Homo sapiens: one gene and its partner. Each later gene encodes a partner of the first gene's protein in a complex. Each region holds a gene or a part of one and is shown on either strand. Other genes may lie near its edges. The genes, in order: IL1A and S100A13. A codon is read from its position in the direction of its gene.

Region 1 (16,796 bases):
TCCGGTCTTGATTCCAAACTCTACAGTATTCTAAATTCAAGGAGACTAAATTATAAGATGGAGAGCCAATTTTACTTTATAACAGGGTTAGAATGGCAGAAGAGACCTGACATTCACACCTCTAGCCAGTGCATCATCTTCCTGTAGGCAAATATGCAGGAAATCTATAATAAGAACGTCCTTTGGTGAAGGCCAGGTGCAGGGGCTTACACTTGTAATTCCAGCACTTTGGGAGGTCAAGGTGGGAGGGTCGCTTGATGACAGGAGTTTGAGAACAGCCTGGGCAACATAGTGAGACCCTGTCTCTACAAACAAAAACAAACACAAAACAACTTCAAGAAAACTCCTTTGGTATGGATCAGAACAAGATGAATTATCTATCTGATCCAAATGCTTAATGACATTAAGCCACAGTCCACTCACTGCCACAATAGAGATATACCTGCCAATGCCACTCAGGTAATCCCATCAAAAGTGGTAATGAGGTCTGCAGCATGACTTGTTCTTAGTGATCCCAGCCTGAGACCTTGAGATTGCAGCATTTTATTCTACATATGCACAAAACATCTGTTGAAAAATCTTCTAAATTGATGCAATACATTCGTATCAAGAATACCTGTCTGTAATCTCCATAAACCCTCTCCTTTCTGTTTTAAAAAATAGTAACAGCATTTCTCCTTACATGACAAAGAAATGACTTCACCATCTACGAAATAGTGAATAGGAGCTGTGTGGAAGGAAATTAGCTCTACTTCTTGGTGGAGATGAGAAGGGAGTGTTCCTCTGAAAATCAAGGCTCTTGTCATGCTAGGAGCCAAAGTCGTTTTTTAGAGTGTGGACAGTTGAGAAGATAAGACAGGGACCATCCACTCATGTTTTTCTTATTCCATAGGCCTCTCTCAATTGGGCAAAGCACTCCAGACCTTTTGGAAGAGTGACACCAAAGGCAAGCACCTGCTTGGCAGGCCCCTCAGCTTCTACGCAAGTATAAGTGAGTATATAAAATGGGGGTACTTGTGCTGTTGAGTACCTTATTTCCAAATGAGGCCTGCCGGTGTCCCTGTGGCTGTGAGAAGGCCTCTACTGGATAGGTGGAAGTTGTGTGTTCTCATCTTTTCTAACCCTGGATTGACTTGCCCAAAAGGAAGCCATTATTAACACTATAATAAAACCATCCTTAATCTGGGACTCTCTTCATGCAGTGGTTCTTAACCAGTGATAAACATGAGAGTTACTTTTGGAGCTTAAAAAAATTAAGATGCTCAAGGTCTACCCAAACTGACTGAATCTCCAGAGGTGAGGCCCAGGGATGTATACTTTTGAGCCAGACCTCAGTTTACCCTGCAGAGCTCATAAGGTTGCATAACACCCTTTGTCAGCCACTCTGATAAAAAGAAAAATTGGTGAGGAATAAGTTTTAGAGAAGAAGGAGCAAAGGTGTTCTTGGCCAGTGAGAGCCAATGACAGGGAAATGCAAACAATGTATCCACAAGAAAGGTAAATTACCCTATAGAGCATTTTAGGATAAATGAACATCTCATGCCTAGGGTTGAGAGAGGGTACAAAAAAAAAAAAAAAAAAGACCACTCTGGATACACAACGCGATAAATGGAATAAAGAGTTTTTTCCTTGTAAATTAAAAAAAATCCTTTGTTACTGAGGTATAATTTAATCTATTTTATGTATAGTTCAATGAGGTGCTATAGATAATAAATTTTTTTTGTAAATTATTATATTGTCATATACTCATACATTCATTTTTAAAAGTCAGAAATGTATATAACCATTAAACTTATAAATCATTCAGTCATTCAGAGATATAGATACACGAGCATATTTTATATCCACCACAATAATTATTACCATCTCAACAATTCCATCACCCCTCAAATTTCAAGCGTAGGGGTTTTTAAATGTCAGAGGAGTCTACTCAGTGGGAGGAAGGTTAGGGAAATATCTTTTGGCTTTTTGCTTCTGTCCCTTGGGTTTAAAGGCAGGGATTTGGCTTTACTCTCATTGATTTGGAACTTGATATATAGGACTGTAAGAAAAGAAATAGACTGTAACAAGTTCTGTGCTAAGACTGTTGAGTCTCACCATGGTGACTCTCTTACTGTTTAGGCAATGAGGGAGGTGGGGCAGACCATAAGGATAGCTGGCCTGGGAGAATAACGCTCCAAGGCCATTTCTACAATGATTCCATATTTCACTGTTAATCAGAGACTGAGCAGCTATTATACTTTTTAAGATTTCTTGAATTTGTGTTGCTTGCTCAGTGTTTTGTATTTCCTTATTTCTTAAAATATATTAATATAAAAATAATTCTTTAATATTTCTTAAAACAAAAGGACATTAAGGAATCAAGTCTTACTTAGTCTTGCTCTAGCCAGACTTGGGCTAAGGAAACCCTAGGAAAGTCGTGGCTGCTAGAAAGAACAGGATGAGACAAATGAGAGACCAGTTCTCTGTGGTGCTCTGTATCAGTTAAGCTAGATTTGACTGCAAGTCATAGCAAACCCAGTGAAATGGCTTAATAACAGTAGCATTTCTTGTTTTCTTAAAATCTGGAGGTAGGTTCTCGGTGTAACAATGTTGTCAGAGATGCTGGCTCTTTTTCTCCTTCCACTCTGCATTCTTCATTGTGTGGCTCTGACTTCCCAGTCGTTGCAAGTTGCTGACCACAGTTCTAAGCTTCACTTCCTCATAGAACATATCTCATTCAAGGAAGAAGGAAGATAAAGGACCATCTATATGGCTCTTTATTTTATCAAGGTAGAAAATCTTTTCCAGAAGTTGTTTCCAGATCGACATCTCATTTGATAGGATTAAGTCAACGTGACTTAGTCATGTAAGAATAGAATGAACATAATCTTAAACCAATTGGATTCATCAATTGGGGAAGGGCATGTTGACTTCTCAGTGAAATCAGGGTTCTGTCAGTAAGGAAGAAGAAGAGATGGCAATTGCATGGACAAACAACAGTGTTCACCATATACTTCTCTTCTCCCTTTGACATCACTTTTAGGATTTTATCTACTACATACCTACTGATGTCTTTCATATCTATATACAGTTATTTTTCTGAGTTCCAGATAGGTTATCATCTCCCCATTGTACATCTGCAATTGAGTGTCCTTCTAGTAGCTCAAATTACATGCCTAAAATTTTACTCATCATTCATCCTGGAATGGAGAAGACCTCCATATTTCTACCAAAAATATGGTTAAGACGCTGCCACTCATCCAGTCTCCAGTACCAAGAAACAGGGTCATCTTAGACTACTCCTTACCCAAATCTACCACACCTAATTCCAAGATCCCTTGATTTTAACCTTGATTTTCCAACTAAATATATCTTGCATCCATGCTTTGATCTATTAGTTGTTCTTTTAAAATTCTCTTTTATATATTTTTTAACATTTTTAAAAATTTATCTTTTGAGACTGGGTCTCACTCTGTTGCCCAGGTTGGGGTGCAATGGTGTGATTATGGCTCACTGCAGCCTCCATCTCCCAGGCTCAAGTGATCCTCCCACCTCAAGCCTCCCGAGTAGCTGGGACTACAGGTGTGTACTACCATGTCCAGCTCATTTTTTAATTTTTCATTTTTTTTTGTAGAGATGAGATCTCACTATGTTGCCTAGGCTGGTCTTGAACTCCTGACCTCAAGTGATCTTCCCACCTTGGCCTCCCAAAGTGCTGGGATTACAGGTCTGAGCCACCGTGCCTGGCCTATTAGTTGTTTTTAATGTAGCTCTGTATGTGTGAGTTTGTATAAAGATGGGAACACATGTTTTGTGTATGTGTAATGTGAGCTTTAAGTGAACCCGGAAATATTATCATTCTTAATGCCATTTATGCATACTGGCAGCTAACAAAGAGGAGAAAAAAATATAAAATCTTGGTTTGATTTTATAAAGTAACACTAAATACAATTATTTATGTAAACATTTACCATTTGTCCCTAATTACCATGCAGTAAAATAATGATTAAGGCAATGAATAACTATGTGTCAGAGAATTTTGTTGCAAGCTTTATTTAGTTATGACTGATAACACTCTATCAATCACTATTGTTGATAATAATGTAACATTATGGTCTGATCACAATTTTTAGAACCTAGAAGAAACATTGATTACATTCCAGAAAAGAAAGTTTTGATAACAGTGGTCTCATGGTTGTCAAAGTTGAGTTCATCTAATTTTAGCTTGTAGGACTTGATTGCAGGTGGAATTGAAACAAGAATGCCCAGGTAAGTTTAATGGCAAAAGAGTCAAAGATCGGACCAATTACTGGCTCAAGGTAATTAATGTACATTTATTATATGATTACAGGTCTCCCAAGTACTAGAATGCAGAGTTTCCTGGCTATGGGATAAGCACAACTTGGACCAAAATGCCCTGTATTAATGAAATCAAACTTACTTATCCCAGAAAACACTGTCTGCTATTGTGGAGGATGCCTGGTCACACTCAGAGGATGAAGGGGTTCCCATAAATATAGTATATTATAATTATCTTAAATATATTTATAAATACATATATAAATAATAATTAAAAAATAACATTTCGTGCTTTGCCTTCATCTTGAGGCTCGGCTTCAAGAAGTATTTTACCAAAATGACCTCCCTGATTAGCATAAAAAACTGTTGCGGCAGGAAGGCTTAGGTATTATTCCCTCCATTTTGAAAATGATAAAACTGAGGTCCCAGAAACTTATGCTATTTGATTAAGAGTTCATCAGCAACTTAAAAGTAGAAGGCAAACAGTTGAAATGAAATCATGAAATCCTAGGTCTGTGGCTTCTTGTTTCAACTGCTATTGTGCATATTTCTTAGTTTTCTTATGCCTTAATTTGCCCATCTGTAATATGGGTAGAGTCTTTTTGGTAGCCATAGTCAGTAGCTCTGGTCCTCCTAAAATTGTTATGAAGAATAATAATTAAAATGATTGGTACTATGCAAAATATAGGGTGTTCTTTAAATAACAACATTATATGTTAGTGTTGGTTCCACTCTTACAAAGAGTGTAAACATTCATTTAGAATTACAAGGCTCAGTACATGCTCAGCAAATGACTAACAGTAAAGGATTTAGCTTCTTCATGTACATGGTACATATGAACTGTCAACACTGCACAAGTGAGACAAGTGAGACTCCAGACCTACGCCTGGTTTTCCAGTATCTGAAAGTCAGTGATAGAGGGTGGCCCCCCTGCCAAGCACACCCAGTAGTCTTGCTTTGTGGCAATAAACAAGTTTGGATGGGCAACTGATGTGAAATAGTTCTTAGTGCCGTGAGTTTCCCAGAAGAAGAGGAGGTTGGTCTCACTACCTGTGATGGTTTTGGGTATCTCAGGCATCTCCTATGAAGAAAAGAAGAGAATTCTGTTAGAGAACAAGATGGTAGAAAAAGGACTGAAGCTCAATCCCTTAGCATTTGGCCTTCATGAGAAACAGCACTTTAGGACTATGGCTGTAACATGATGCTATAGGCTCTTCATTCATTTGTTCATTCAGCAAGCATTTATTACATGCCTAGTAGATGTGTGGCCCAGTCTATTAATAAGAGTTGATTTCCTTAGTTGATTGGAGAGAGATCTAAATTAGTTATGAAGATTGTCAGTGACACTAGTATCTTACTGTATCCAGGCAGGTAGGAGGGAAACATTGTTTCTGTCCTGCCTTCAACATAGGCCTAAGACATTTTGCATCAAATCTGAGCACTACAGTGATTCTAAGCCCCCTAAACATTTTGATCTCCAAGTGAACAAATCATACCTTTGGAAATCAATTTAGCATTTAGATGACATTTATCTCAGTATTTAAGTCAACAATTGAAGGTTAAACACACGCACACACATACACACACACACATACACACAAAATTCCTAAGTATATCAGTAAACTCTTTCAATATACTCTTTAGAATGTACTTTTCTTGTGAGTATGAGTAGAATTTAACAATACTTTTATGGAAAAATAGATTTCAAATTCCAAGTTGAGATGCTTCTTTCCTATTCTTTTAAATCTAAAGCAAGTAAATATACTTTTGAGGCTTCCTTGGGGTTTCCAATGTCAGCAGGATTTATTTCCCAAACCTATTCCTCTCCTACTTTTTCCCTTCTCAGTAAATGTTGTTTCTCCTCTTCCTTCTGTTGGTTCTATCTCCAAAATATAACCCAATTCTGTCTGTTTCTTTCCACTTCTTTTCCTTACCCCACCCCCATGACTGCTGTGAAACCTCCTCATTGGACTTTCTGCTTCTCTATTGCCTTCCTTCTGATCTGTTTTCTATTTTAGGAAATATAAGTGAGGTCAGGCCATTGCACTGTGTGAAACCCATTAATGGGTTTTCATTGTACCTCAAATGAAATCCAAATGCAAGCTCTGCAAGCACTAGTCTCTGCATATTTTTCCTCCTTCTCAAAATGCCCCAGTTCCAAGAATGCTTCTTCTGATCCTTGGAGCTGTCCTTTACCATCTTGAAGTTGTAGGCCTGGGTGCATTCAGACTCCTCTGAATGTCCCAAAAACCCACAACCATGACCCGCCCCCTCCTCTGAATGTCCTACCCAAAAACCCACAACCACGACCCGCCCCCTCCTCTGAATGTCCTACCCAAAAACCCACAACCACGACCCGCCCCCTCCTCTGAATGTCCTACCCAAAAACCCACAACCACGACCCGCCCCCTCCTCTGAATGTCCTACCCAAAAACCCACAACCACGACCCGCCCCCTCCTCTGAATGTCCTACCCAAAAACCCACAACCACGACCCGCCCCCTCCTCTGAATGTCCTACCCAAAAACCCACAACCACGACCCGCCCCCTCCTCTGAATGTCCTACCCAAAAACCCACAACCACGACCCGCCCCCTCCTCTGAATGTCCTACCCAAAAACCCACAACCACGACCCGCCCCCTCCTCTGAATGTCCTACCCAAAAACCCACAACCACGACCCGCCCCCTCCTCTGAATGTCCTACCCAAAAACCCACAACCACGACCCGCCCCCTCCTCTGAATGTCCTACCCAAAAACCCACAACCACGACCCGCCCCCTCCTCTGAATGTCCTACCCAAAAACCCACAACCATGACCCGCCCCCTCCTGTCGGCAGCTCTCATCTCACAAGGGGCTTTGTTTTTACCACTTTGTCTAAATAGCACTCTCCCACTTTTCTCTATCTTAGCACCCTATTCATTTTTTTTTTTTTTTGCAGCATCTTGCTCTTTTGTTGGTTGTTTGGGTTGTCTGTTTTCCATATCCTCCAGAAGACTAAGTTCTATGAGACTAGAGGCTTTGATGCACCACTGTCCACACTGCTGTTGGCACTATGCCTGAAAAATAGAAGGCTCTCAGTGAATAATGCTTGTTGAATGAGTTCATGAATGAAGCTACTGCCCTACTCTGTAGACATCACTTGATCCAGGTAGAAAAGCACAGGCAGGCACATAAATTCTACTTGGGAATAGAAGGTCTTGGATTATATACTTACAAATTGAGTCACCTACTTATCAGTGGAGAAAACATCTAAGGCTGTTGTGTGTGTGTGTGTTTGAGGGGGAAAGTGGTAGTGGAGACAGGACTGGGACGAAGGATAATGCTGACATCAATGCAGAGAGAGGGGAACTGGAAGCAGCAGGCCCCATTTTGGGACTTGGCTCCCAGCTTGTTGCTTTGTGCCCATTGGCAGGTGATTAATCCTCTCTGATCTCAGTTGGCTTATTTGAGTTTCTTGGAGGCAGGCCACATTGTCCTAATGTCTAGTATTGTGTAGGTCAGATAATAGATGTCAGTAAAGATCAATGGAATAAATGGATGCTCTGGGATGGGAGGTGAATAAGGTCAGGCAGGGAAAGGAAAAAGAAAGAAGGTAATTTTCCTCTTACTCTCTGTTATATTTTCTCATAGAGCCTGCCTAGGCACGCCTCTGGAATCAATGGGAGTGGGGTGGGCAGGTGGGGGCTGTGGTAGGAAGGAAAGAGGACAGTGTCACCTTGTTAGAGGTGTCTGCCTATTGGGCTTATTTACAAACATATGAGATGTAAATGAAGGTAAGTTGGAGACAAAGGACAACTGACCTTCAGCAGCACTGGTTGGTCTTCATCTTGGGCAGTCACATACAATTGAGTTTTTGAGATTCTTAGAATCACGGTAATTTTAGCATCATCCTTTGATGACTTATAAGCACCCATGTCAAATTTCACTGGTGAAGAGAAGAACCAAAAAGAAAGTAAATTCATTGTATTTGTATAAAATCAAGTGTTGATGTAGATTGTGTGTGCATGGTGTGTGTGTGTGTGTGTGTGTGTGTGTGTGTGTGTGTGTAGTTAGGTCCCCACCTATGGTGTAAATACCTGGAAGTCAGGAATGGAATTCTATACATCTTTGTGTCCTTCACAATGTCTTCCACACTCACTAGGCAGGTAAATACTTGGTTAATGTTCTTAGAATTTTCTACGTTGAATGAATCCTTCGGGGCTGAATAAGTGTTGAATCTCTTATAATTTCATTAGTGGGATAAGACCCTGTAATTTGTTAGATCATAAGTTCATAATGACCTAACATGGAGGGGTTTAGGAAGCTGATACACTCATATGTTGCTAGTGATACTGAAAAGTAGTTCAGTTTTTACTTACAGAATAATGTTTAATAAGAGCTGTCAAATTATTTGTGCCCATTGATCTAGGCATTCCTCTTTGGGATGTGCTCAAAGAAATTACAAGATAGGAGAAAAAACAATAATATATACAAAGATATTTGCAATCAAGCTATTTAGAGTAAACCCAAGGGACCAACGTAGCAACCTGATTGAATTGTCTAGTGATATTAAAAATGGCAAATACATACACGATGTCAATATTGGGAAAATTGCAGAAATAATATTAAGTAGAAAAATAGAACACAAAATAATTTGTAAATGTAGAGTTGAAAGCATGTTAGCTGAAGTGCATCCAATCAGAAAAAGTCTTGCTTGTTTATTGCAAAATTGCCTCTCTGGACCTTTGAAAATATGTATACTGTTGAAACTAAAACATGTCCGCCATGAAAATTGGATGTGTGTGATAAAAGTTTTTGGACACTAAACTTCATCCTTTAAGCCATATTTGTAGCTTATTGGAGGTTTTGCCTCACAAATATGTTATCAGAGATAATAAAGATCTTCCTAGTTTGGTGTTACTTGTGAGTTTGATCAACAGACTTTTTAAAGGAGAGTGATTGTTCTTCATTGGCTTCTGGGTAAATCTGAGTAAATCATTTAATATGTCTGACAGTTTCCTCAGTTTTAAAATTGAGGGTAAGAATGTCTGAAAGAACCAAAGAGGTAGTACATCAGCTAGCTTTGTGCACAACCCTTTACTCTCAAAGATAGGAAACTTCTCTCTTGTGGAACTTCCAGATTTAGTTGAACCTTCTGCCCTGGCTTGGGATTTTTATGGGGGTGCTGTGCTTCAAGCTATTCTGGAAGAATTGTGCAACCCAGAACTCTGAAGAGGTATGTTTTTTGCAAGCAGAAAGATTGAAATAAATAAATAAGTAAATGAAAGGAGGGGAGGATGACAGAAATGTCTGGTGCCATTTTAATGTACCTGCTTCATCCAGATTATGTAATGCAGCAGCCGTGAGGTACTGATCATTGGCTCGAATTATACTTTGATTGAGGGCGTCATTCAGGATGAATTCGTATTTGATGATCCTCATAAAGTTGTATTTCACATTGCTCAGGAAGCTAAAAGGTGCTGACCTAGGCTTGATGATTTCTAAAACCATGATCACAAGTGCAGATTAATGTCTATGTACAAACACAGATGATATACACAGTCTAGTACAAACAGGGAAAATAGTTCTGGAGGGGATATTAGGAATATTCCAATCCAGATGAGGAAGCAAAGAGAAGTGAAATCACCCAGTCAGCAGAACTGGTTTTCTAGGATTATCCTTGTTGTTGCTTATGTGCTTCTTTTTAAACTTCAATTCCTCAGGCAATAGTTTCATTGTTTTTAGAGACTATTTGTGCAACTTTTTCATTTTTCATTGTTTGGGTGTTTCTAACTGACAAGGAAGACTACCAGTATTTCCCGTCTATGTTTTCAAATGAATGCACTCTGAGAAAAAAAGAATGCATTAAAAATAATTATATATGTCACAGAGAGTGCAAAGTGGCACATATCAATAGCGTCACAAATCCTCATGGCTCTGGGAAATTCTACTTCTAGGAATATATTCTAAGGAAATAAAGGGTGAGAGAAATGAATATTTATTTATACAGATGTTCATTGTTGCATTGCTTATAATGGTGAAAAACGGGCACTCTAAAATGTCCTCAATACATTGCTAAGTAAGAAAAGCTGGATATAAAGTTGTAAATAGTGTGGTCTTGATGTTAGACATATTTGTTCACATGTAGGTATGTGTATAGCAAAGATTTTAAGGAAACATACCATAGTGCTGGCAGTAGTAAACTCTCACTGACGATATGAGTGATTTTTATTTTCTTATATTTTGTTACATTTTAAAACCTTCTAGGTGAACATGCGTTATTGCTTAGGTATTATCTTAAAAACAGGAATATTGGGTTTATAGTTCATGTGGAGGCTTGTACAGTAAAGGGATGGAGGAGAAACCATGATTTTTTTACTCAGGTAGAACTGAATTAGATTTGAGGCTCTCCCACTTACAGATGTATGCCATTGGGCAGTTTACCTATCTCAATGAGCTTAGTTTCCTTTTATGTAAAATGAGAAGGTAGGATTCTTGTGAGGTTTAGACATAATCCAGTCATTAATAAATTAGTATTGCTGGTAGTATTCATATAGGTAGTAGTAGTAGTAATAATAATAATAATCATAGGCCGGGCGCGGTGGCTCACGCCTGTAATCCCGGCACTTTGGGAGGCCAAGGTGGGTGGATCACGAGGAGATGGAGACCACGGTGAAACTCCGTCTCTACTAAAAATACAAAAAATTAGCCGGGAACAGTGGCGGGTGCCTGTATTCCCAGCTACTCAGGAGGCTGAGGCAGGAGAATGGCATGAACCCAGGAGGCAGAGCTTGCAGTGAGCCGAGATTGCGCCACTGCACTCCAGCCTGGGTGACAGAGCCAGACTCCATCTCAAAAAAATAAAATAAAATAATAATAATAATGATAGTAATAGCTAACATTTATTGGGTGCTTACTTTGTACCAGACATTATTCTAGTCCAGAAGTTAGGGGATGTTGACTCATTTAATCTTTATAACAGTCAGGAGGGCCCAGCTAGCTCAGTCTGTAAAGCCTGAGACTCTTAATCTTTACAGCAGTCCAATGAGTGGGGGATTCTGATTATCTCCATTTTACAGTAGAGGAAACTGAATCACGAAAAGATTATGTAACATGACCAAGGAGGCATAGTTAGTATGAGAGGAACATAGCTCGTAAGTGGTCTTATTACTGCTTTCTCCTGAAAGGCTAAAAGTCACACGACCTTTACAATATGGCTAAGAAATAATGGCTGTGAGCAAGTATTCTCGATTCAGGCCACTGCTCATTTCTCCCTCCTGGAGAAGGATAAAAATTAATTTTCCTCTGTATAGTTACCAGACTAATGCTTGGTTGTCTTCTTGTTATTCTGACTCCACGTTTAATTTTCCCCTAAATTCTACTGTCCCTACTTGCTTAAAACTGTAAAAGAAAGATATTATTGTGCTTGACCCCTTACCTTCCTCTGAGTCATTGGCGATGGCCTCCAGGTCATCATCAGTGATGGATTGGCTTAAACTCAACCGTCTCTTCTTCAGAACCTTCCCGTTGGTTGCTACTACCACCATGCTCTCCTTGAAGGTAAGCTTGGATGTTTTAGAGGTTTCAGAGATACTCAGAGACACAGATTGATCCATGCAGCCTTCATGGAGTGGGCCATAGCTTACATGATAGAAGGATTTCTGTGAGGAAGGAAAACAGAAGCTGAGAGGCTGTTCATGGTCAGGGAATGAAAGTTCTTTCAGTAGGTGCTGTATTCAACAGAGGTAGTGAGGAGGATCTCCATTCTGGTCTTAGGTAACTGGTGTTTCATTAGGCTTCCCTCCCTCTCTCCCTTTTGTCTCACCTTCCTTCCTCCTTCCAGGATAAAAAGATGATTTTTTTAGGAAGACTTTTTCATTTATTTGCATGCTCAAAAATGAGATGTTGTAACTAAATAGGTTAACAATGATTGTAGTGAGTGGTAGCTTTCCAATTAGTTCCCTCTCAGGAGGTTAAAAATCTGCTTAACAATGCTCAAAATATTTTAGAAATACTCCTTTGGGGACAGCTTTTAAAGCCAGTACTGAAGACATACTAGGCAGTACTTATAGTGTCTATTTGTGGTCTCCAAACACAATAACACAGATTGATGAGTGGCTGTAGACTTCTCACTTTCAACTGGCTTGCTTCCTCTCTCTCAGCTTCATGTTTGGAGACTTTCTCTAACCTCTGATGCTGGTGTCAGAGAAGACAACCACAACACATCACGTTAGGAGACAGACACCTGGTGAAGCGGCCTGCGGGGCCTTTCTCAGGATGGCATAACTAACATCCTGATGAAGCCTGCCCCAGGAGACTCCAGTTCTCAGGGATTTGGGATGGTTCTGCTCTGTTCTGGGAGAAGCCAATGCACATCAACTATTAGTTTAGAGAGGCAGCTGGTCTCACTTATAATGAAAGACAGGTCTCTGGACCTCTAGTGAGGGTAAAACAAAAGTATTGAAGATTCAAGTCATTGCTGTTCTCTTTGGATGAAGAAACCACTGTGTAAGAATAGCAGTCCCATGAGAATTACAGTCATTTGCTTACCTGATTCAGAGACAGATGATCAATGGAGGAACTGTCTTCTTCATTTTCACTGTCAAAATAAGATGATGAGAATGTAATTGTTGTTATTTCAGTGTGGTCTCTGGCCAATGTACTTTAATGACCATGATAGTTGTGGGTCACACACATACACATGGCCATTACTGTCATCTTTGAAATTTAAGGACTTCTACACATACACATAGGTAGAGTAATTCATATCTTACTAATCTGGAATTAGTAGTCATCAAGACAGGCTTTGAGCTTTACCTGTGCTTTATCTGTAAAAATTGGACTTGGCTAACAAATTGAAGAGCTTTAATTGAAGTTCAGGGAAGAATGTTAAGCTCCTTTAGAGAAAAGAAAGGTTTTGAAGCACTTCCTTTTTATTTTAACCAAATAGATTATATGTTACACATTACTTTCATGTATTCACTAAAACAGATTTCATAATTTATACTTAGTAAAATATCCAGGCAAAATTTTGACAGCCTAGTTTGTGTTAGTATTTACTACAGATAATGGAAACATCATGTTAGTTTAATATGTTCCGTAATTTTATCTTTGTGTTCATTTACCTTTCTTCTACATCTGAGTGAGATTTGCCTGCATATGTGAGTTCACATGCCCAGCTTGCTGTGGAGCCATTTCCTGTTCCTGAATGAGATCAAGTTTTCCTGAGAATGGACCAGTAAAACCCATTCTTATATCAGGGCATGTGATCTCAACAGAGGCTGTGTCTAAGTTGATGCTGATATTCATGTAGGGCTCAGCAGACCTCAAAAATAATTTTTCTAAAATGGCGGTCTCCCTGCCAATGTAATCTCAGTTTAACATGCTGAATGCTTAGTTTTTCTGGGTCTTCTCTGAACCTGCTCTGACTTCAGGACTAGTACACATCTCTACAACCTCTGCCGGCCTGCCCCCATGCTGGCCACTGTTATGCCTAGCTGGATTCTGGTGAGCCTTGAAACCCTCATTAAATCACAAGAGATAAATCTTATTCCTTACCTGTAACAGTTCTTCAGGTCTTCAAACATGTCTGGAACTTTGGCCATCTTGACTTCTGCAACAGAGAACACCAGCCACCATCAGCTCAGCCAGCCTCTAATCCAGATATCTGTGAGGGGAGCCCCTCCTCTTTGTGCTTCCTGAAAACTTTGTTGAATGACTTAGTCCACATTCAGCATTTTCTCCATCTTCTAGCTCCTTTGAATTAGTTTGCTATGTACCTGTCTCCTTTATTAGATCGTAAACTTCTTTTAGAATGTTTTATTTATGTTGGTATTCCTTATGTGCCCAACCTAATGTATTGCCAGAACAGGCATTCAATCAATGAAAGTTTGAAGAGGTTACAAAAACACCACAAGAATAAGGTATTTGCCTTACACAGAGGTAAGAGAGAGACAGAGTTGGAAATTTTCAATTTTCTCCTAATAATTTTGGATAGTAGAGATTCCCTCCCATGAGAAGCCTCAGTTGTATTCACCCATGCCCTCATAGGAAACTAGTTCTGCTGTCCCTCAGTATAACGAATCAGTCCTTATCAGCAAAATGAGAGAATCATTTTCTGAAATCTGACTGTAATTCTAGGTCACATACCAAACCAGGGAGGGACAAGAAAAGAAAGGAGAGGCTGTAGCTTTAGAGAAGGCAATGTGAGAGAAAACAGCCAAAGAGAAAAACAACAACAGAAAATACTTTAATAGCCAGAGATGTGAGGACAATACCTTTGCTGACTCAAACGCCAATGAAATGACTCCCTCTCTGGCTGGCAGCTTAAGCCTGAGTCAGTCTTCTTCGCCTTTTGTAATTGTCTTAAGTAGGCGTGGCTACGTGGCTACAAGTGCGTCGTCAAAACGGGGAATTTACAGGGAAGAATTCAGTTTTGTATTTTTCTATGTTCATTCAACTCGATACTGGCTAAAATAGTGAAAGATGGCATAGCTGATATTATTGTTGTTTGCAGATATTCCAGAAGTTATTGATTTGGTTCATTTATTCACCCCTTTGCTTTATAAGATGACAAACATGTAGTCTTAGAAAAAGGGAAGCGCGGGAAACTTATCAAGTTTCTAGGAGGAAGGGAGAAATCGTGAAATCCGAAGTCAAGGGGCTAGATTTGGAGAGGAATTTATTAATAATAATAGTTCTAATAGTAGCTGTAGTTGTGTTCTGGCTGAATTTGTTGATTGTGCTCCAGGGTGAATTGGCAGAATACTTGGCAGCTCCTGGCAACTTTTGAGGGAAAATGAGCCATCTTTTCTGAAGAGGGAAGTTTGCTTGATTAAGGCATAAATCACCTCAGAGTTTGGGGTGACAAGCTCCTGGTTAGGGCAGGGTAGAGAAGAGAACAGTGGTATTTGAGCACAAAGAAGTCTTGATCCTCTTACTCTTCTGAATATTGTCAACACATTTCCTATAGAGGGGATGGAGCTTCAGGAGAGAACTCTCCACCCTGGCCCTGTTACAGTAAAGTAGCCCTCTACCAAGGACCAGAGAGAAGCCTGGTCTTCTGTAGGATATGCCCAAGGTGTGTCTTCTGTAGAAGAAGGTGTGTGCAAGCCCCGGGAGGTATGCGTAAGGCCTCAGCCAGAAGCCAGTGGCTAAGTTTGGGAATGGAGATTGGGAGAAAGGAAGGCATGGATTTTTACATATGAGCCTTCAATGGTGTTGCCTGGTTACTATTATTAAAGAATTTCTCAGCTTTTATAATTCCTGTGGCCAGCCTAGTTCAGGTGGTAGAACACCAGACTCTTAGCAAATGAATGTTTTGGGTTCCCAGTTGGAGTTTAAGCCATGTATATTTTAAATAGAGGAAATGAACTAGGTGTGATGGCATGCCCCTGTAGTCCCAGCTATTCAGGAGGCTGAGGCAGGACAATCACTTGAGGCCCAGAGTTTTAGTCCAGTGTGGGCAACATAGTGAAGCCCCCATCTCTAAAAAATAATAAACGCAAAAAAGCATGGATCTGGGAGGAAAGCAGCTTGTGTGAGTTGGATAAAGTATTCCCTCTGTTCCTGTTTAATTGTAAATAATGGGGTTGGTTAGGTGTCATAAGGTCTATTGCAGGTGCAAAATCTCTTATTCTGATTTAATGCCAGTCTAATTCTCCTGGTCATAGACCTGGTGCTATAATAGTTATAACAGGAGCCACAGAAATAACCACACTTGGATGTAAGCAATGTAAGTGTAGCACCAGACTAGGGTAGAAGCTTGGGTGTCTAAGGATGAATCCTGAAGCAACAGTGATGCCAGCCAACTGGCTACATTTCTGCTTACCTTGGTTCCTCTTTAGGCAACACAGAAATGTTAATCCTGATTAACCCTCTCCTCCTGAGAATCTTGTGAGGGCTATTGCTAAGGAACAATTGCAAAGCACATTGTGAATGTGAGCTGCTATGGAGATGCAACTAAACAAAAATAATGACAATGCTAATGATGGCTTCAGTCACTCAAGAACCTGTATAGTCATCATTATAATGCCTCAGTTCACCAAAGAAAATATAGTTCTTATGAAAATACTGGCTTGAAAGCTTCAACAGGGATAACATTTTCAGGTGAAGGCCACCATTGAAAGCCTGAAGATATTTAGCTTCTGGGAGCAATGCATACCATCTCTTTGGTAATCCAGGAAAAAAACCCTGGTTCCACCAACATAGGCAATACCTATCCTGGTCCCATCCTCACTCCTCTGTTGTAAATAATTCCCCAAAGGTGGTTGTTGAATTTTTCAAAGAGAACTTGGTTGAGAAACAGCTAACTTGGGTTAGAATATCACCCAACCTTTTCCTTCACATGATCTTCTTGTAAATTGATTTTTAAAGGAAAACTAGGGTGGGTGAGGTTCAGAGAGAGGTGGGTCCTTGCATTGTTTTGGGGAGCCCGCTTTTCTGGGACTGTGAACAACAGTCACCTCTTCTAGGGAAGGGACAGTGGAACGTACTGGGCAGGGCTCTACTGGGTAGATAGTGGAACATACTGGGCA
Region 2 (11,097 bases), on another chromosome or scaffold:
TGAGCCGAGATCACACCACTGCACTCCAGCCCAGCCTGGGTGACAGAGTGAGACCTCGTCTCAAAAAAATTAAAAAAAAAAAAAATTGAAGTTCCATTTCACTCAGAATTATATAAGCGTAAATCAGAAAAAGATATCATTTTCACATCATAGATTAGCAAAAAGTAAAAGCTCAATAACACCCAGTTTGGACAAGTACACAGGCATCGCATGAAGTGTGGGTAGCCATATAAACTGGTACAACTTTTTTAGGAGGCAAATTGGTAATCACAAAAATTAAAAATGAAAGCTGGTCTCGGTGGCTCACCCCTGTAATCCCAGCACTTTGGGAGGCCGAGGCAGGCAGATCATCTGAAGTCAGGAGTGCGAGACCAGCCTGGCCAACATGGCGAAACCTCGTCTCTACTAAAAATACAAAAATTAGCCAGGCGTGGTGGCACAAGCCTGTAGTCCCAGCTACTCAGGGAGGCTGAGCCAGGAAAATCGCTTGAACCTGGGAGGCAGAGGTTGCAGTGACCCGAGATCATGCCACTGCACTCCAGCCTGGGTGAAAGAGCAAGATCCTTTCTCAAAAACAAATTAAAAATGAACATGCCACTTAACCTAATATTTCTACTGCCAAACATTTACCTTATGTTGTTATTTTTCCACCAGTATGTAGGTATACAAACAGATATTTGCAAGAAGGAAGAAATGGACATAAGAAAAATTTCCATCAATAAAGGATTGGGCTGGGCATAGTGGCTCATGCCTGTAATCCCAACACTTTGGGAGGCCAGGGCAGGAGGATCACTTAAGCCTAGGAGTTCAAGACCAGCATGGGCAATATAATGAGGCCCTGCCTCTACAAAAACATTTAAAAATTAGGCCTCAGTTTCCATATATGTGAAGTGAGGAATGGGGACTGTGTTTTCTCTTGGCCTCCTTCCAGCTGTGATGGTCTGTGAATCTCCTGGAAGCCAGCTCTGGGTCCAGTCCTGTCTTGGGGAAATTAGACCAGAAAAGCACAGAACATACACAAGAACCCAACAGCATCATCTGATACAAGCCCATACTCCCACTGGCACACAGTATCTTTGCTTACCTAATTACATGCACGCACACGTACAGAGGCCCTGTCTCTACAAAAAAATTAAAAAATTAGCCAGACATGGTGGCACATGCCTGTAGTCCCAGCTACTCAGAAGGCTGAGGTGGAAGGATCACTTGAGCGTAGGAGGTAGAGGCTGCAGTGAACTGTAATCACGCCATTGCACTCTAGCCTGGGCAACAAAGTGAGACTCTGTCTCAAAAAAAAAAAAAGAGGTATCAGTTGTAAGCTGGTAAGAACGATACAGTGGAGAAGGAAAATTTGAGGACACAAGAAAGAGAGGAGTAATTTCAAGAGGAAAGTCTTTTTTTTTGAGACGGAGTCTCGCTCTGTCGGTCACCCAGACTGGAGTGCAGTGGGTGAGAGGGGATGGGATCCAGGGCACCAGTGAAGGGTTGGCCTTAGGGGCAGTGACGTATCATTTGCATAACAGAAGACTGCTGATTTCGGGGAGGGAGCACATACAAGTTTCCTGATTGCTCCTATTTTCGTTTCCTTTTTTTTTTTTTTCCTTTGAGACAGTCTCCCTCTGTTGCCCAGGCTGGAGTGCAGTGGTGCAATCTCAGCTCCCTGCAACCTCTGCCTCCTGGGTTCAAGCAATTTTCCTGCTTCAGCCTCCCAAGTAGCTGGGATTACAGGCGCACACAACCATGCCCAGCTAATTTTTTAAATATATTTTTAGTAGAGATGGGGTTTCACTATGTTGGCCAGGCTGGTCTCGAAGTCCTGAACTTCTCAGTGAGTAAACTTCTCAGGAAAAGGGAGAACGTGGAAAGATGTACTGAGCTTTGAGGAGAGAAGACAAATTGTGAAATAATTATCTGAAAGAACTGGTAAATGAATCAACCAGGGAAACACAGAACCGCCAGGTATTGCCAAGGGTCCCTTTTGGGGTCTGTGGTTATAGATTTAAAGTGAGACAAGTCAACAAAGCTATGCATTTTTCTCCAGCCAGATTCAGCTATCCAAGTGCAGGTGCAGAACAGTGGATTTAACTGGCAAGTTACTATAGGTGAAATGGTGGATTAACTGGGTTGAGAACAGAGAGAGACAGAATCAACGGGGTTAAGGCAGTGATTACAATTAGAAGCCTTAGAACCTGAGGTGAGGAGGAAGGGCAATGAGGACCCGAGGGATGTTGATGGAAGATGCAAAAGTGAGAGGGTCGAGAGACTGAAGGTACCTGAGGAGTCAGGGAAGTGCTGAAGTGGAGAAGCTAGAGAGGGGAACAGAACTGGAATGACAGGAGGAGGTCAGCAGATAAAGGGAAACTTGAAATCAAGATTTTGGAAGTTGTGCGTTATTTTGTTAATGACACAGTCTAAAGCATGAACAGAGGAGTGGGATGCTGAGATGTAAGAAGACAAATCTTTTTGGAAATGAGGAGTTGAGAAAATTGAAAGGCCCAGATGTTGGATGAATTGTCTGTGCGGATGCTGAAGCCACTGAGAATAACAACAGAAGCAGTGATGAGAAGAAAACAGTGAGCCAGGAGCTGAAGAGCTGTAAGGAGCGCAATAAGAAGAATGGCAGGTGGCAGATGATCTTCCAAGGCGCTGGGAAGTCTTAGAAAGAAGAAGAAACTAAAATCTAGAGATAATGGAAAGCAGAGAGGTCACTTCCTCCATTTCCAGGCCCAGAGGAAGTTGAATTTAGGAAAAAAAAAAAAAAAACCACAATCACTGCTTGACAAGGATATAAGGAATGCTGTCCCTTCAGGAGAGAACCTGAAGTTTCCAGTAAAAAAGATGAAAAAGGAAACGTCTGGCTGGGCACAGTGGCTCATGACTGTAATCCCAACACTTTGGAAGGCCAATGCAGGAGGATCACTTGAGGCCTAGAGTTTGAGACCAGCTTGGGAAACACAGAGAGACCACATCTCTACAAGTAACTTAAAAATTAGGCCAGGCGCGGTGGCTCACGCCTGTAATTCCAGCACTTTGAGAGGCCGAGGCAGGTGGATCACCTGAGATCAGGAGTTCGAAACCAGCCTGGCCAACATAGTGAAACCCCGTCTCTACTAAAAATACAAAAATTATCCAGGCATGGTGGCGGTTGCCTGTAATCCCAGCTACTCATGAGGCTGAGGTAAGAGAACCACTTGAACCCAGGAGGCAGAGGTTGCAGTGAGCCAAGATCGCACCATTGCACTCCAGCCTCGGTGACAGAGTGAGACTCTGTCACAAAAAAAGAAAAAATTAGCCAGGCAGTGTGGCATGCGCCTGTGGTCCCAGCTACTTGTGAGGCTGGGGCAGGAGGATTGCCTGAGCCCGGAAGGTCAAGGATGCAATGAGCTGTGATCGCACAGTGGCCTGGGCAACAGAGTGAGAAACCCTGTCTCAAAAAAAAGTCTGAGAAGTTGGAAGTTGTAGGGGATTTTGCAGATGAAAGACCATGAGTTTCAGAGACTCACTGTGTTCAAGGAGTCCATATTCACACACTTCAACGTGCCTGTGGATTTTCAGAAAGGATGTAAAACAAACTGTCAACAGCCAGAATGACCAGGCCTCTTCGAGGCCAGAGTCGATGAAATTTAAGACCTGACTCCAGCCTGTGAGTGCGAGAGAAGGAATGACTCTTACACCCTAGTAAGGGGATGCCCATAGCGGGTAGGGAGTCTTCACAGATGCACCCACAGACCCCCTACACTGAGGTCTATGACTCCATGAATTTGGCTGTGTTTTCATTTTTGATAAGCCCCTTTCCACTGCTAGGCCTCAGTTTCCATATATGTGAAGTGAGGAATGCGGACTGTGTTTTCTCTTGGCCTCCTTCCAGCTCTGACAGTCTGTGAATCTCCTGGAAGCCAGCTCTGGGTCCAGTCCTGTCTTGGGGAAATTAGACCAGAAAGGCACAGAGCATACACAAGAACCCAACAGCATCTTCTGACACAAGACCATACTCCCACTGGCACATAGTATCTTTGCTTACCTAATTATATGCATGGACACACAAACACACACATGTACACACCAGGCAAGAAAACTCACAACCGGGTCAGGCGCAGTGGCTTGCGCCTGTAACCACAGCACTTTGGGAGGCCGAGGCGGGTGGATCACCTGAGGTCAGGAGTTCGAGACCAGCCTGGCCAACCTGGTGAAACCCTGTCTCTACTAAAAATACAGAAATAGGCTCGGCGTGGTGGCACACACCTGTAATCCCAGCTACTCAGGAGGCTGAGGCAGGAGAATCACTTGAACCCCGGAGATGGAGGTTGCAGTGAGCCAAGATCACACCACTGCACTCCGGCCTGGGCAACAGAGTGAGACTTTGTCTCGAAAAAACAAAAGAAAACCTGCAACCATTGACACATGCAGCCACCCACACCCTTTCTTGTGGTCACCTCACCGTACTCGGCACCATCACGTCCTAAACACAGTGTCCCATAATCATCATCTCACAAAATCTCAGTCCCAGACTTCTGCCTACCTTGAGCAGATGGGGCAACTGCTGGGTAACCAGCTCTTTGAACTCGTTGACGCTGAGGCTATCCTTCCGGCCCTCCTGCCTTGCAAAGGTGAAGAAGGTGGTGACCACGGTCTCAATGGACTCCTCTAGCTCTGTCAGTGGTTCTGCTGCCATTAGGACCCTGAGGCCAAAGCTGATGTCCTCAAGGGGCTAGCTGACCTTTGTCAGGGCTGACCTGTGGAAGAGAGAAGGAGCAGAGAGGGAGAGTCAGGGAGCCCCAAGATGCAGGAATGGTTCAGAAGGTCCCTGCCTTGGTGTTATCACATCAGTCTCAGCCTGGAGGGGGCATATGGGGAAAGAGGGAGAGGACAGGGGTTGAGCTTGGGGCAGCAGACCAGGCAACGGCATCTCAGTTTTGGTGGGGGCAGGAGATTCAGCTCCAGAAACCCCCTCTTCTGTAGGTCTCACAATCCGGGATCCTTTTTAAATGTCTGTGGCTTAGGGACCCCTCTGTGGTGATCCCTCGATCTGGAGACCCCTCTACTTGAGAGGAGGTCTTCAGTTGAAGGTCCTTCTTGGAGTCCTTCAAGTCTGGTGGCCCCTCTGTGGCGTGTCTGTCTCAAGAATCCCTTCTTGTCTCACCCAGACTCACAGGTCATAAGGTTGTTTGTCTCCAAAGCTTGTTTATGTTGGGCCCTGGTCTCCGGCCACTCGCATCCGCCCACACACACTCTAACCGCTCCTCCCAGCAGAGAAGCACAGGGTCTGGCAAATGTCCCCTGTGGTCAGAGCTGGCTCCGTCTGAACAGACCCATTTTCTCTGCCCCGCTCCACCCTTACCTCTCCTCAGCGGCAGCAGGGCAGAGTGCTGAACCCAGGACCCCACAGATCCTCCCCGCTCCTGTCTCCCGGTGACAAGGGTCCTGGAACGGGGCGTCTCTGACTCCCTGCTCCAGGACGGGTTTAGTACAGGCACTCACAACCCCCTGGGGTGCGGCGGGTGGGGCTGGAAGAGGCATTCTCTTTTCTGTCCACCCCGTCACACACTCCTGCACGCGCTGTTGCTCGATCATCCAAAGCTCCTTCCTGAATTCCTGTCTGAGCTGGCTCTGGGGGAGGGACCTGGGAGCCCAGGAAGAAAAAATGATCTCCAGCCTCCCTCCAGGGTCAGCCATGAGACTCACCCGGCAAGGAGATGGGGTAGAGTGAGCTGGAGCCTCAGGGCTGAGGTTTATAAGCAGCGGGGAAGGAGGAGAGAGCTGCTTCCAAGCCCGGAGGTGTCAAATTTCCGTGGTCGATTCTGAAGACCAGAGACAGCCCAATCAGGCCGCTTGCCCTGAGCCCTCAGGTCTGGACCCGGGCTCCCTGCCAGCCACACGAGCGCCCCCACTTGGTCAGGGAGAGGAGCTGCCTGGACAGATCTCGTTCGGCAGGGGTCCCAGGGTCCTAGTCCTCTCAATACTGGGGGCTGCTGCCACCATACCCATGTCTAATCAGGAGTGTGTATGCTGAGGGGGGAAGAGGGAGGCAACCAATCAAGGGAGCTCAACACTGAGAGGCCCAATCTGAGACACACACAGAGGCCCCTTGGAATGAGATCCCACAAAGGATGCTACAGACCAAGATCCCTCAGAGAACCCCAGGCTGAGGCCCCACACACAGAGGGGGATCCAGGTTGAGACCCCCAGAGAAGAGTCCTGGATTGAAATCCCTCTGTGGGTTCTCAGACTCCCAAGACTAAGTTTCTCACTGAGGGTCCTCTCAGTGAGGCCCCATGGAGGAGCCACAGACTAAGACCCCCTCAGCAGAATTCCCCCCTTACCGGGCTCAACCAGCACAGCCAGCCACAGGTACTGCAAGGCCCAGCTTGGGGTAAGACATCCAGTGTCCCTCCCAGGACCTCCTTCCCACCTCTTTCCCCTGCACCATCCACTGCTGCCTGGAGAGAAAGGAACGGGGCAAGCAAGGCTGGGAAAGAGACAAGGGCCGCCTGTTCCAGCCCAGGAGACAGAGGGCGCCTCTGTCTGCTCCTGGCCCCTTGCCCCACAGGGTGTTCGTCTGTGAAGGGGTGGAGTCGGTGGGGGGGTCAGCGGGGGAGGGACTGTTGAAGACAGGTCTCCACACACAGCTCCAGCAGCCACATTTGCAACCTTGGCCATCTGTCCAGAACCTGCTCCCACCTCAGGCCCAGGCCAACCGTGAGTACCCTGCCCCACTGGGCTAGTCCCTGGCCTGCCAGCTTCAGGGAGAGGGGTCTTCAGAAGGGCTCCAAGAGGCTGGGGACCATAGCACTGTGGAGCACTGAGGATCTGGGAGGAGTCAGTCAGGGTGAGGGCAGTTTGGGATTTGGGGGAGACAGGGTTTGGAAGGTGGTGATGAGAGACAAATGAACTGAAGGTCGGAGAGAGAGCTGGCAGCTCAGCAAAGGAGGAAGCCAGTGGGGAACCCACCATGAGCTTCCTGACCGCCTGGCCCTCCCACAGGGAGCCCTCAAGTCCCTGCCAAGGCCCCCTCTGTCTCCCAGGTGTTGGGAAGGGTCCCAGCCCTCCCCTGCCTCGCCTCCTGTGGGGTAAGAAGAGAGCAGATACAACAGCTGTTTCTGCCCCCACCTCTCCTGCCAGCCTTAGTCTCTGCCACCCCCACCCTGCCTTGCCAAGAGCTCAGGTCCCGGGGGAGTCTGGGGGTGGCAGGGCAAAGCTCCCATGATATGGGGAAGCAGAGATGTAGGGTGCTGTGCCCCTTCCCAACTCGACCTCCACAGGACCTCCCCTTTCTCCTCCTCCCATTTTTGGCCCAGACCTCTTGACTCCTCTTTCCCCCCATTCTTACCTCTTTGTTTCCCCATCTCCCCTGCCCCCAAGTCCTCTCAGAACTGCCACCACGTAAAATCCCAGGCTGCTTTAGGGCTCCAGGTGACCTCCAGCTGCCCCTCTGGCATGGAGCAGGTAATCAAGCTACCAGCACCCCTCCCTCAAGCACCCCTTATCCCCTCATCAGCCACAGCTTGGGTTCCATCTCCCCCATGTCTCTGTGACAACTGCTTCTCAGGTCCGGAGTTCAGATGACACTCACAAGGGCCCCATTGAAGAACTGGGATGTCATTCGATCAGGGGCCATTGTCCAGCCCCCTAGGCCTGGGGAAGGATGGGGACATCTGATCCGAGACACCTGAGCTGCCCCCTCTGGGGTTGTGGAAGGCCAGACTGTCCCAGGGCCAAGGGAAAGAGGCCCCCCGGCTTGGCAGTCTTCTCTCTCAACAGACCACTCCTTTCTCCTTTCTTCTCCTACTCTCTCCCAGCCCCTTGAACTCAAAGGACCGCATGCTTTCAGCCCTTTCTCTCCCCCAACACACAGCAGCCCCATTCCCCTTGCTCCCACTATCCCCGAATCAACCAGGAGTGAGCAGTTGCAGGGACAACGCCTGCAGGTCTCCTCTCCCACTCCCTGGGAACTCTGGCTCCAAGGAAAAGGCTCAGACATTCCTCTCTCCCCTTCTGCCACCCACCAGATGGAAGGGATAATTTTGCAGAGGCAATGGGAGCATATCCCAAAGAAGCCAAAATGACATGTTCAGGAGAGAACAGAGTTGAAGGACCAAAAGGGGCCCCCAGCTGCTGACAGGAAACTCAGAGTCAGTGAGACCTCCCTCCCCCAGAAGGCGTACGCCACCCACTGGGGCTGCCATCCCCTCTACCAGGCTGACCGAGGGTACCAGACTGACTCCTTGCTAGGGGTGGGCAGCAGAAGGAAGGCTGTAGTGGACACCCCAGCCCACCACCCTCAACAGCAGAGCTTGGCTATGCTAGACAGGCAAGGTCCAGGGTAAAAATAGAGCCAGAGGAAGCATGGCCCAGTCCTGTGACCACCCCTGCCTGCCCCACCCTCCTCAATCCCTGCCTGGGCAGCCACTGCAGACATCTACCACAGGCCTCTGGAGCCAGCCCAGCTCCAACTGCTCTCTCTCCATGCCCCAACCCTGATTCCCTCTGGCTGGGGTACAGACTGAGGGACACAGAGAACAGGCCTGCACTTAGGTCTCTTGGGGTTTCCCTCACATTGTAAAATCTCAGGGAAAGATCAATTGCAGTAGGGCTCTAATCCCACAGCTATTTGAGCTGTCAGCCAGGGCCAGTCCTGAGGGTTCCCCTCACCTAGACCCCAGGTACTCCGGGCCTGGTCCTCAGCTCACTTCCATGATGGGGGTGGGTAGGTGCACTGCTGCAATGGGCTCTGAGCTGGAGACGGCGATGGAGACCCTCATCAACGTGTTCCACGCCCACTCGGGCAAAGAGGGGGACAAGTACAAGCTGAGCAAGAAGGAGCTGAAAGAGCTGCTGCAGACGGAGCTCTCTGGCTTCCTGGATGTGAGCATAGAGTGGTGGAGTGGGAGTGGAGTGGGTGAAGGTTGGGGGAATGGGGTGGACACCCCCTTGCTATCTCCCCACCCCACCTCCAGCTCAGCCTAGCCTCTTTCTTTCCTTTCCCAGGCTTCTCTCCTGGGTTTTTCCAGGCTCCCCTACTCCTCCTGGGTCAAGTCAAAATGCCCTGGTTTATTGATCACCTGTTAAGTGTTAGGCCCTGTGTAGATTCATCAATAATAAGACACACAGACTTAGAAGGGAAAGATTGACACTTAAAAGTAAACCATGAACTCCAGGAAATACACAGAGCCTTAACAGATGTACCAGAAAGGGTTATGAGAGATTATTAACCTGATTGAAGTCAGATGGCTTTCCTGAAGAGGTGGCACTTGAACCATGGATTTCCATTGGAAGATTATCTGGGTAAATGCAGACATTTTAGGAGGAGGTAACTGAATGAACAAAAGCATGGGAGAAAGAAGAATGTGGAGCATGTCAGTAGTTTCATTCAACTGGCATGAAGGATGTAGAAAACTAGGCTGCTAAGGCTAACCAGGGCCCCAAAGTAAAGAAGCCTCAGGATACGGTAGAAAGTGCACCGGTTTTGAGGTTTTATTGGACTGGGTTCAAATTCCAGCCCTGCTACTTTCTAGCTGTGGGACTTTGGGCATATTTATTTAACCACCGATTACCAATTTGTTTCTTCTCTAGAATGGAAATAATGAAACATACCTCACATTATTTGTATTAGAATTAAATTAGACAGTGCTTGTAAAGCTCCTAGTGTAGTGCTTGCTTTATTATAGGCACTGAACATACGGTAACTGGTGTCATTATTATTCATTCTGCCAGGTGAAAGAGCTTATGCTGTAGGCAACAGAAGCCCTCAAGACCTTTGAGGAGGCCTAGAAGAGTCCCATAATTCAATGCAGTTCCTCTCGCTCATCTTTGCCTCCTGCTCCTCAACCACCCCCTTGCCTCTGACTCAGTGCTGTACCCTTCCCTATACACCTCCCTCTTCCTCTCCTCCCACCACAGGCCCAGAAGGATGTGGATGCTGTGGACAAGGTGATGAAGGAGCTAGACGAGAATGGAGACGGGGAGGTGGACTTCCAGGAGTATGTGGTGCTTGTGGCTGCTCTCACAGTGGCCTGTAACAATTTCTTCTGGGAGAACAGTTGAGCAGACAGCCACATTGGGCAGCGCCCTTCCTCTCCACCCTCCCAGACCTGCCTCTTCCCCCTGCTTCCACCTCACCCCACTTATCCCTCTCCATAACCCCACCCTTGCCCACCCCACCCCCACCCCCACCAAGGGCGCAAGAGTAGCGGTCCAAGCCTGCAACTCATCTTTCATTAAAGGCTTCTCTCTCACCAGCCATCCGATGTCTGTCTCCTCTGGGATCTGGAAGTGGGTGGAGACGTGAAGACTGTTCACTCTCAACTCCCCTTATTTGGGGAAGTGTCTTATTTAGAAAGAGGTCAAGGTGCATTACATCTTCCTACTTGAGGAATGCTCAAGGTCCAGAAATGTGGGGGTTCAAGGTTCCAGTTGGAAGTCGAGGAGACATCAGCTTCTCAACTATAAAACCAGAGGAAGAAATAATCTTTTTTTTTTTTTTTTTTTTTTGGAGACACAGTCTGGCTCTGTCACCCAGGCTGGAGGGCAGTGGCACGATCTCGGCTCACTGCAACCTCCGCCTCCCAGGTTCAAGCGATTCACCTGCCTCAGCCTCCCGAGCAGCTGGGACTACAGGCGCCTGCCACCACGCCCGGCTAATTTTTTGTATTTTTAGTACAGACGGGGTTTCACCATGTTGGCCAGGATGGTCTCGATCTCCTGACCTCGTGATCCCCCCGCCTCGGCCTCCCAAAGTGCTGAGATTACAGGCATGAGCCACCGCGCTAGGCCGAAAGAATCTTCTTTCAATCAACGAACATTTACTTAAGTGGTACTATGTGTAAACACTGTAGGAACTGAGGCTCCAGCATTAAGCAAAATAACCACGATCCTTACCCTCACATGGGTAAGGATGCTGGGCCATTACTTACACACAGACACACACAAACACATACACACACGCACACGCCCAAGTGCCAGGAAGGAAAATGAAAGGGTCTTGACGTGCCAGTGGAGCAGAGGAAGGGTTGCAGATGTGTCATTCTCTCATTCCTCAAACATATGTACACTGTATTGTGCACATAGTCATTAGAAAAATCCCTTATTGAGGCCGGGCAC

The links.
Region 2: the proteins of IL1A (region 1) and S100A13 are in contact, whole or in part, in an NMR structure (PDB 2L5X), measured with the Homo sapiens proteins. Residues at the interface, in NP_000566.3 of Homo sapiens: Asn148 (codon at 9,639), Gln150 (codon at 9,633), Tyr151 (codon at 9,630), Thr194 (codon at 8,117), Ala195 (codon at 8,114), Gln196 (codon at 8,111), Asp197 (codon at 8,108), Leu203 (codon at 8,090), Leu204 (codon at 8,087), Lys205 (codon at 8,084), Glu206 (codon at 5,362), Met207 (codon at 5,359), Gly216 (codon at 5,332), Ser217 (codon at 5,329), Glu218 (codon at 5,326), Thr219 (codon at 5,323), Asn220 (codon at 5,320), His239 (codon at 5,263); in NP_001019381.1 of Homo sapiens: Met1, Arg25, Gln26, Glu27, Gly28, Arg29, Lys30, Asp31, Ser34, Asp68, Ser69, Glu70, Lys72, Phe73.

What each region holds. Positions count from the first base shown.
Region 1 is NC_000002.12:112,769,906-112,786,701, forward strand, and holds IL1A (interleukin-1 alpha precursor), read right to left. Parts: upstream 14,589-16,796; 5' UTR 14,538-14,588; intron 14,496-14,537; exon of another isoform or gene 14,410-14,495; intron 13,874-14,409; 5' UTR 13,866-13,873; coding exon 13,819-13,865; intron 12,860-13,818; coding exon 12,811-12,859; intron 11,922-12,810; coding exon 11,699-11,921; intron 9,762-11,698; coding exon 9,591-9,761; intron 8,207-9,590; coding exon 8,082-8,206; intron 5,363-8,081; coding exon 5,162-5,362; 3' UTR 4,020-5,161; downstream 1-4,019. UniProt on the Homo sapiens protein: Cytokine constitutively present intracellularly in nearly all resting non-hematopoietic cells that plays an important role in inflammation and bridges the innate and adaptive immune systems.
Region 2 is NC_000001.11:153,621,801-153,632,897, forward strand, and holds the start of S100A13 (protein S100-A13), read right to left. Parts: upstream 5,706-11,097; 5' UTR 5,683-5,705; exon of another isoform or gene 4,894-5,682; intron 4,734-4,893; 5' UTR 4,673-4,733; coding exon 4,520-4,672; intron 1-4,519. Other genes in the region: S100A1 (protein S100-A1), read left to right, coding at 8,722-8,862, 9,898-10,041. UniProt on the Homo sapiens protein: Plays a role in the export of proteins that lack a signal peptide and are secreted by an alternative pathway. Binds two calcium ions per subunit. Binds one copper ion. Binding of one copper ion does not interfere with calcium binding.